2 separate regions of the Homo sapiens genome follow, and region 2 is linked to region 1. Evidence: fine-mapped QTL for protein levels in blood plasma. Region 1 holds a variant in brackets. A gene starts in the other region. All regions are shown on their forward strands. Region 1 overlaps ZNF563 (zinc finger protein 563). Region 2 holds the start of PLA2G2A (phospholipase A2 group IIA).

The links. PIP is the chance, under the fine-mapping model, that this variant and not a neighbour inherited with it causes the effect. Protein levels are from antibody-based Olink assays in UK Biobank. Linkage for the fine-mapping came from a reference panel and not from the study's own genotypes, which makes the PIPs less certain.
Region 2: it holds the start of PLA2G2A, and the variant in region 1 is fine-mapped to the plasma level of the PLA2G2A protein (UK Biobank, PIP above 0.99).

What each region holds. Positions count from the first base shown.
Region 1 is chr19:12,316,467-12,320,992 of GRCh38, forward strand. It overlaps ZNF563 (zinc finger protein 563), which reads right to left. Exons shown (of 4, transcript NM_145276.3): 4 at 1,011-3,367. The coding sequence ends at 2,128. Among named protein-coding and RNA genes, the nearest start is that of ZNF563, 15 kb to the right of the region's middle. The variant G/A (reference allele first, on the strand shown) is at 2,502.
Region 2 is chr1:19,977,353-19,981,352 of GRCh38, forward strand. It overlaps PLA2G2A (phospholipase A2 group IIA), which reads right to left and starts at 2,266. Exons shown (of 5, transcript NM_001395463.1): 1 at 2,228-2,266; 2 at 1,382-1,527; 3 at 1,028-1,172; 4 at 663-769. The coding sequence starts at 1,421. RefSeq lists an enhancer at 910-1,409.

The DNA.
Region 1 (4,526 bases):
TACAAGGCGCAAGTGTTAAAGATTATCATCCTCAATTAAGATTCTTCCATGGAACAAAGCCTCCATGTCACCCCAGAGATTACATGCTCACAAACGTTGCAAAGTTTAAAAAAAAAAAAACTAGCTTCCTACAATGTTTCTAATTAAATATCTGCAAATATGAAGACAGCCTTCAATGCTTAAAGATCTTCAGTCCTCAAATTGAACAGATTCTGACATTAGTATTATTTAGACTGCTCCAAAAATTCAGTATCTGCAGTCAGAATCTGTTTCTTCCAATATAGTTGATCATGTTGACATCCTGTCAAGATTCGAGTTAGCCTGAGGTCTCACTGCTTATCTGTGGTGTCACACATCTAGCTGACTCAACACATCACAACATTAGGCACGATATTGCAATAATCATCATTACACTTTTGTTGGGTGAATGTTAACACATTTTCAGGTCATTAAACAAAAGCAATCTATGAGTGTTGAAAGAAAAGATTTATAATGCTCTAGGTGACATGTATTATGTGGGTGGGTCTGTACTGAATATGTGTAGGGTCTTTCTCATATCATGATTCACTAAACAATATAATAACAACTATTTACATAGCTTCTATGATGCATGATGTATTTTAACTAATCTACAGATGATTTAGAGTATACAGGAGGATGTGGGTAGGTTACATGCAAATATTTTTTATTGTTATTATTTTTTTGAGACAGGGTCTCATTCTGTTGCCCATGCTAGAATGCAGTGATGTGATTTTGACTCACCGCAACCTCAACCTCCCAGGCTCAAGCGATCCTCCCACCTCAGCTTCCCTAGTAGCTGGGACTACAGGTACATGTCACCACACCTGGCTAATTTGTGTATCTTCTGTAGAGACAGGGTTTTGCCACATTACCCAGGCTGGCCTCTAACTCCTGGGCTCAAGTGATCCACCTGTCTTGGGCTCCTAAGGTGCTAGGATTACAGAGGTGAGCAACTGTGTCTAACCCAAATATGTCTTTTCTTTCTTTCCTTTTTTTTTTTTTTTGTGTGTGTGACAGAGGTTGTTTTGCTCTTGCTGCCCAGGCTGGAGTGCAGTGGCGCGATCTTGGCTCACCGCAACCTCCGCCTCCCGGATTCAAGTGATTATCCTGCCTCAGCCTCCTGAGTAGCTGGGATTACAGGCATGTGCCATCACATCCGGGTAATTTTGTACCAAATATGTCATTTTTAAAAAAGGACTTGGCATGTGTCGATTTATGTATGCCCAGGGGGTGGTAGAACCACGCTCCTGCAAATATTAGGGGATAACTGTATTTGAAAGAAACTGAGGCTTAAAATTAAGGCTTTACTATGTGTTTACATTCATAGGGTTTATCTCCAATGAGAATTATTTCTATCTGAAATGAAATAACATTAAAGAATACTTCCCTACATTTCACACATTTATAGAGTATCTCTCCAGTGAGTCCTTTTATGTCTATGCAAGGACCTGAGAGAACTCAATGCTTTTCTACATTTCTTACATTCATATGACTTCTCTCCAGAGTGAATCCTTTCATGTACTTTTTTTTTTTTTTTGAGACAGGGTCTGGCTCTGTCGCCCAGGCTGGGGTGCAGTGCATCTTGGCTCACTGCAACCCCCACCCCTTGGGCTCAAGAGATCTTCCCACCTCAGCCTCCCAAGTAGCTGGGACTACAGGGGCATACCACCACACCTGCTACTTTTTCTATTTTTTGTAGAGACATGGTTTCACCATTTTGCCCAGGCAGGCCTCAAATTCCTGAGGTCAAGCAATTTGCCCACCCTAAGTGCTGGGATTACAGGCGTGAGCCACTGTGCCCAGCCTCATGTACTTTTAAGTTACCAAAATGACTGAAGGCTTCCCTACATATTTTACACTCACAGAGTTTTTCTGCTCTGTGAGTTGTTTTATGTTGACAATGGTGTTAAAAAAAAATCGATCACTTTCCCACATTCCTTATATCATACAGCATCTCTCCAGTGTGAGATATTTCATGATTTTGAAAGGAATAAAAATTATGAAAGGCTTTCCCACATTTACATTTATAGGGTTTCTGTCCAGTGTAAGTTTATTCATGATATCAAAGGGAACTGGAAATATAGAAGGCTTTATAATAGTTTACATTCATATTGTTTCTCTCCAGTGAGTCTTTTCATGTCTTTGACATACACTGGGATAAACAAAGGCTTTCCCACATACCTTGCATTTATTCGGCCCATCTCCCGTATGCATTACCATATGTCTTCGAAAGCTTGAGCTATGAGATAACGCTTTCCCACACTGCTTGCATTCATAGGGTTTCTCTCCACTGTGAGACTTTTCGTGTCTTTGACATACACTAGGATAAACAAAAGCTTTCCCACATATCTTGCATTTATGAGGTCCACCTCCAGTGTGCATTATCATGTGTCTTCGAAAGCTTGAGCTATGAGATAACGTTTTCCCACACTGCTTGCATTCATAGGGTTTCTCTCCAGTGTGAATTCGTTCATGATATC[G/A]AACTAAACTGGGACGATCAAAGCCTTTCCCACATATCTTACATTTATGAGGTCGATCTCCAGTGTGCCTTTTCATGTGTATCTGAAAGCTTCCAAGATGATGAAATGTTTTCCCGCATTGCTTACACTCATAGGGTTTCTCTGCACTGTGAGTGGTTTCATGTCTTCGAAGGGAACTGGAAACACTGAAGGCTTTCCCACACTGTTTACATGTATATGGTTTCTCTCCAGTGTGAGTTCTTTCATGTCTTATATAGGAACTGGAATCAGGCAAGGCTTTAGAACACTGCTTACATTCATACGGTTTCTCCCCAGTGTGCATTCTCTCATGTCTTCGATAGGAACTGTAAAAAGGAAAGGCTTTAGAACACTGCTTACATTCATACGGTTTCTCTCCAGTGTGAGTTCTTTCATGCATACGTAATAAACTGGGCCAAAAAAAAGCTTTCCCACACAACTTACATTTATAAGGTCTATTTCCACCTTGCACTACCATGTGTCTTCGAAGGTTTCTACGAGAACTGAAGGTTTTTCCACATTCCTTACACTCATAGCGTTTCTTTCCAGTGTGAGGCCTTCCACGCGACTGAAAGGAGTGATGGTAACTGAAGGCTTTCCCACGTTGTTTATGTGTATGTGGCTTCTCTCCATATTCCTGATACTCATGTGGTTTGTGTCCAGAATCAACTCTGATGTGGCTATTAAGGGATAAATGACCCATTATGACTTCTTCACACTCAGCGCTTTGACATGGATCTTCTCCAGGACAAATGCTGTTGTTCACAATACTATCTCGAATGAGGCTAAATGTTTCTCCACACTGACTACTGTCTTTACTTTCACTGAATCTCTCTACCATATGACATCTGTAAAAAATGAGTAGTACGTTACTAAATAGTTGTTTCTAAATGATTATTTATTTATGTGTATTAATAGGTATTGGATGTACTTTTTTTTTTTTTTCCCTGAGATGGAGTCTTGCTCTGTCACCCAGGCTAGAGTGCAGCGGCACGATCTCGGCTCACTGCAATCTCTTCCTCCCGGGTTCAAGCGATTCTCCTGCCTCAGCCTCCCAAGTAGCCGGGATTAGAGAGGCATACGCCACCACGCCCAGCTAATTTTGTATTTCTAGTAGAGACAGGGTTTTGCCATGCTGGCCAGGCTGTTCTCGAACTTCTGACCTCGTGATCCACCCCCCCTTGGCCTCCCAAAGTGCTGGGATTACAGAAGTGAGTCACTGCGCCTGGCCAGATATACCTTTTTATCATTACCATGCAAAGTGTAGGCTTCATGCCCTGTTTGAACATGAATGAACTGAATGCTATGCAAGACAACCCAACACCAGCTGGGTTTTTTTTTTTTCCTTTTCTTTTTAATTAATTAATTTATTTTTTGAAACAGTATCTTGCTTTGTCACCAGGCTGGAGTGCAGTAGCAGAACGATGGTTCATGCAACCTTGACCTCCTGAACTCAAGTGATCTACCTACTTCAGCCTCATGAGTAGCTGGAACCATAGGTGTGCACCAACACACTTGGCTAATTTTTTTTTTGAGACGGAGTCTTGCTCTGTCGCCAGGCTGGAGTGCAGTGGCGCAATCTCGGCTCACTGCAACCTTCGCCTCCTGGGTTCATGCAATTCTCCTGCCTTGGCCTCCCAAGCAGCTGGGGTTACAGGTGCATACCCCCATGCCCAGCTAACTTTTGTACTTTTGTAGAGACAGGGTTTCACTATGTTGGCCAGGCTGGTCTCAAACTCCTGACCTCAAGTAATCTGCCTGCCTCAACCTCCCAAAGTGCTGGGATTACAGGCATGAGCCACCATGTCCAGCCTCATATGTAAATTCTTATAAAATGTTTTAGGAGGAAATTTTTTAAGAATAAATAAATTTAGGCTGGTGCAGTGACTCACACCTGTAATCCCAGCATTTGGGGAGGCCAAGGCAGGCAGATTGCTTGAGCCCAGGAATTCAAGACCAGCCTGGGAAACATGCCAAAACCCTGTCTCTACAAAAAATACAAAAATT
Region 2 (4,000 bases), not on the chromosome of region 1:
ATCTTGATTTTTTCTCCACCTTTCCCATCCTGACCTCCATTGTTTTATGTCAAGATGTTACTCCCTCTTGCCTGCATGATGGCAATAGCTTTCTCTGCCCCCCTTCCACTTGTCTCCATCGACCCTGTCCCCACAGTGAGTCATCTAAAATGCAAATCTGACCCTGTAGCTCCTTTGCTTAATAGCATCCTATTGCTTTAGGGCAAAACCTAAATACAGCCCGGCCTGGAGGGCCGGATTGACCTAGCTCCTTCCTATGTCTCCAGCATCATGGCTCAGCACTGCTCCTCTTCCTCATGTTTCTGCTGGGCAGTACAGAATGGCTTACAGTGCCCTTTAGTGCCTTTGACCATGCTGTGTCCTCTTCTGGGAATGCTCCCTCCTCTTCCCTGACTCTCTGCACAGCCTTTCAGACTCAGCTTAGGGGTCACCCCTTCCAGGAGCCTTCCTCAAGCCTCAGGCTGTGTTAATGCCTTATCTGTTTGTTTACTTCCCACTGGAGTCTTTACTACATTGGATTTTCACTTTCCTGGCTTCCCACTCAACCGTGAGCTTCCTGAAGCAGGAACTGTGTCCCTCTGTGTCTATCTTTGGTGCCCAGCACAGTCCCCAGCACTGTCTAAACAAATGAGGGCCACTCGATGGTGAGGTAGGACTCTTACCACAGGTGATTCTGCTCCCCGAGTTGCTAAACTTGTAGCTCAGAAATTTGGTGCCACATCCACGTTTCTCCAGACGTTTGTAGCAACAGTCATGAGTGACACAGCAGCTGTGAGGAGACACCCTGTTGGGGCTCTTGTCCCACAGCTCCAGGAGGCCTGGTGCCTGTGGTCTCACCCCCTTGGACCCTGGGCAGAGACCCAGTGACTTTGCAACAGTCTAGAGCAGAAGTTCCAACATGCCGGCTGCTTTTCCAGCCAGGCCATCCTGAGACCTCTGCGCCCATCAGGAACCGGCACTGTCTTTGCAGCTCCCAGCCCTGCCTGGGCCAGAGTCTAGGAGGGTAGGGAGGGATAGGTGGCCTCACCGATCCGTTGCATCCTTGGGGGATCCTCTGCCACCCACGCCACAGTGGCAGCCGTAGAAGCCATAACTGAGTGCGGCTTCCTTTCCTGTCGTCAACTTGATCATTCTGTGGAAATTCACCAAATTCCCATGGGCCTGCAGTAGGCCTGGAAGGAAATTTGGGAGTTGTCTGGTGATGGGGCATGGGGTTCTGCGCCCTCCCTCTCTGCCCCTCTCTGCTACTCTCCTTCCTCCCAAATGGCTTCTTTTTTCCCCCTGAGAGAGGATCACTGCAATGGGAGAGAAAACTAAGGGACAAGAGTGCTTCCCTTCTGGGGCTGTCCCCCCATGCTCAGAGGTCAGGGTCAGCTCTTACCAAAGATCATGATCACTGCCAACAGTAGGAGGGTCTTCATGGTAAGAGTTCTTGGGTGACAAATGCAGATGGACTGGCCTAGCTCCTCTGCTGGGTGGTCTCAACTTCTGCCCCGGCCGTCGCTCCCCTGCTCCTCCTTGGTGGCTCTGAGACACACAGACATGCTCTCCCATCCAACCTAAGTCCAGGGTGACTTCCTCTGTCACACTCAGAGCACACAAGGAGTGCCCTCCAGCAATGCACACACACACACACACACACACACACAACCACCTCCTGACCCGTTCCCAGCTCTGCAGAATGGTTTCACACACATCAGGCCCTCAGACCTGTGGAGAACCCCATGATACACTAATGAGACCTCCCCTGTACCTCATCAGACTGAGAGTTCTTGGGAGGTTGGAACCAGGTTCCTCCCAACTACCTGGGAGGTTCCTGAGGTCAGAGGATGTGTCCCTCGCTAGACATAGCTTGCATATCCCCACACTGGATTCAAGGCTTGGAGTCTCCAAGGCACCCATGGAGGCTCGGCCTCAGTATTTTCCTCCAGAATGAAAGCATCAACCTCTCTCTTCTAGGCCTTCTAACCCCTTCCACATACACAAGTTCCCAAACACATACATGTTAACACACCTATGCCCACATACACACACTCTCGTACTTACCTGATAGTGCCAACATCCTCTCTTACACTACACTCACATACTCACTCAACACACTCATGCACACACACCCTCTCATACATATCAAATCATGCACATGCATGCACAACACAGCCACTCTCAAAGGCAGCGAATGAGCAGGAATTCTGCTCTTGACAGGACATCAGCTTCGCTGGCTCTTTACCTCTCAGAGGACTCCAGAGTTGTATCCCCAGGCCGTCTTGTTTGTTCTGCACTCCTGCTCCCCTTAAATAGCTGCTCCCTCTGGGAGGTTGGGGGTAGGTGAGGCACAAGGCTGGGGATGGGCGTGGTCAGTTGGTGGACTCAGGATTGGTCGCCCATACCCCTAGGTAATCCCTTTCCTTCCCCTCATCAGCTGGCAGGACAGAGTTGAGGATTGGGAAACCTTACGTGTCAGTAGCTGATGCCAAAACACATTTCAGGCAGTTTTGCAGTCTTTCCATGGAGTAAATTCCCATAACCAGCTCTGGGTGTGATCAACGGTCAGCCACCTCCCTGCAATCGCCTCTAAGGGGGGCAGAGACTGTCTGCTGTTGCAGGCTGTGGACTCATTTGCACACCCAAAGGGACTACCAATTGCTGAGCAAGGATTGCTCCCTTCTGCTCAATGTGGCATTTGGGAATAGAAAAGAGGGCTTTTAGTGGTACTCATTCATTCAGCCGCTCAATCATTCATTCACAGGAAGTATGTCCTGGGCCTCTACCATGTTCCAGCACCTGTGCAGGCCTCACGTGTGCACCCCACAGTCCACCAGGGAGAGAGTTTAATGGGGGTGGATTTCCCTTCCCACTAACTTGGGCCAGGGCCTCAACTTTCTCTTCTTATTCTTCTTTCTTCTTTTCCTCCACCCCTGTCTCATATGAGCTTCTAAACCTGGAAAAAGCCAGAGGCTATCCTTGAAGTTCCCACCAAAGCACTGCCTTCACTTTATTCCCCATCCTCACCTGTTTGGAGACAGGGCAGGTGAATGCTCCCTGGATCTGTTGCTCTTTTTCCTTCAGCCTTCGGGCTGACACTGACTCCAGCTTTAATTCATAAAGTAAATATCTTTTTCATTGCTCTCCAGCACATGCTAAGAATTTAGCTTCCACCGCCTTAAGTAAACACTCTGCGATACCAGTCCTAAAAAAGTCACTGTGGCAGGGGCTGTGGTGCTTGTGAACATTCCATCTGTTCCCTACACTCTAGAGCCCCTTGCAGGGATGGAGACCTAGGGCCCTGCTGCTGACTGGTAAAACATGAGCACTGGTATGAAGGGTCACTTCCAGGTTTCTCCAGCAAGGGGACTATGAGATGCAACTCCCCAGCCCTTCCCTGCCCCACTGGTAGAACCAGAAGATGAAAGCAATCTGGGGTGTAAGAATCATGGCACGGAAGACAGTTGTCCTAGAAAGTCCTGCAGCTCACAGGGGTCTTAGTGTGAGTGAGAAATAGACTTTTGTTGTATTAAGCTGATGATAATTGAGATGGGCAGTTGCTGGAGCATAACCTAATCTATCCCAAGAGCCATCAAACAGCTTTCCTCTCGAGAATACCATTTACCTCCAGTGCTCGACTGTGTAAGGGGTTGGACTGTGGTCCTCCTTCCTGCTCTCAGTTCCTGTGTTGGAGTCCCGGTACCTTAGAATGTGATCTTATTTAAAAATAGGGTCATTGCAGATATAATTAGTTAAGAGGAGATCACTAGGGCAGCTAGGATGGGCCCTAATCCAAGATGACAGATGTCATTACAAAAATGGGAAATTTGGAGACAGGCAGGCACACTGGGAGAAGGCCATACAAAGATGAAGGCAGAGATCAGGGTGAAGCTTCTACAAGCCAAGGAATGGCAAAGATTACCAGAAAACACTGGAAGCTAGGAGAGAGGGATGGAGCAGATTCTCCCTCACAGCCCTCAGAAGGAATCAACCCTGTTGGGCCCTTTGATTTCTGCCA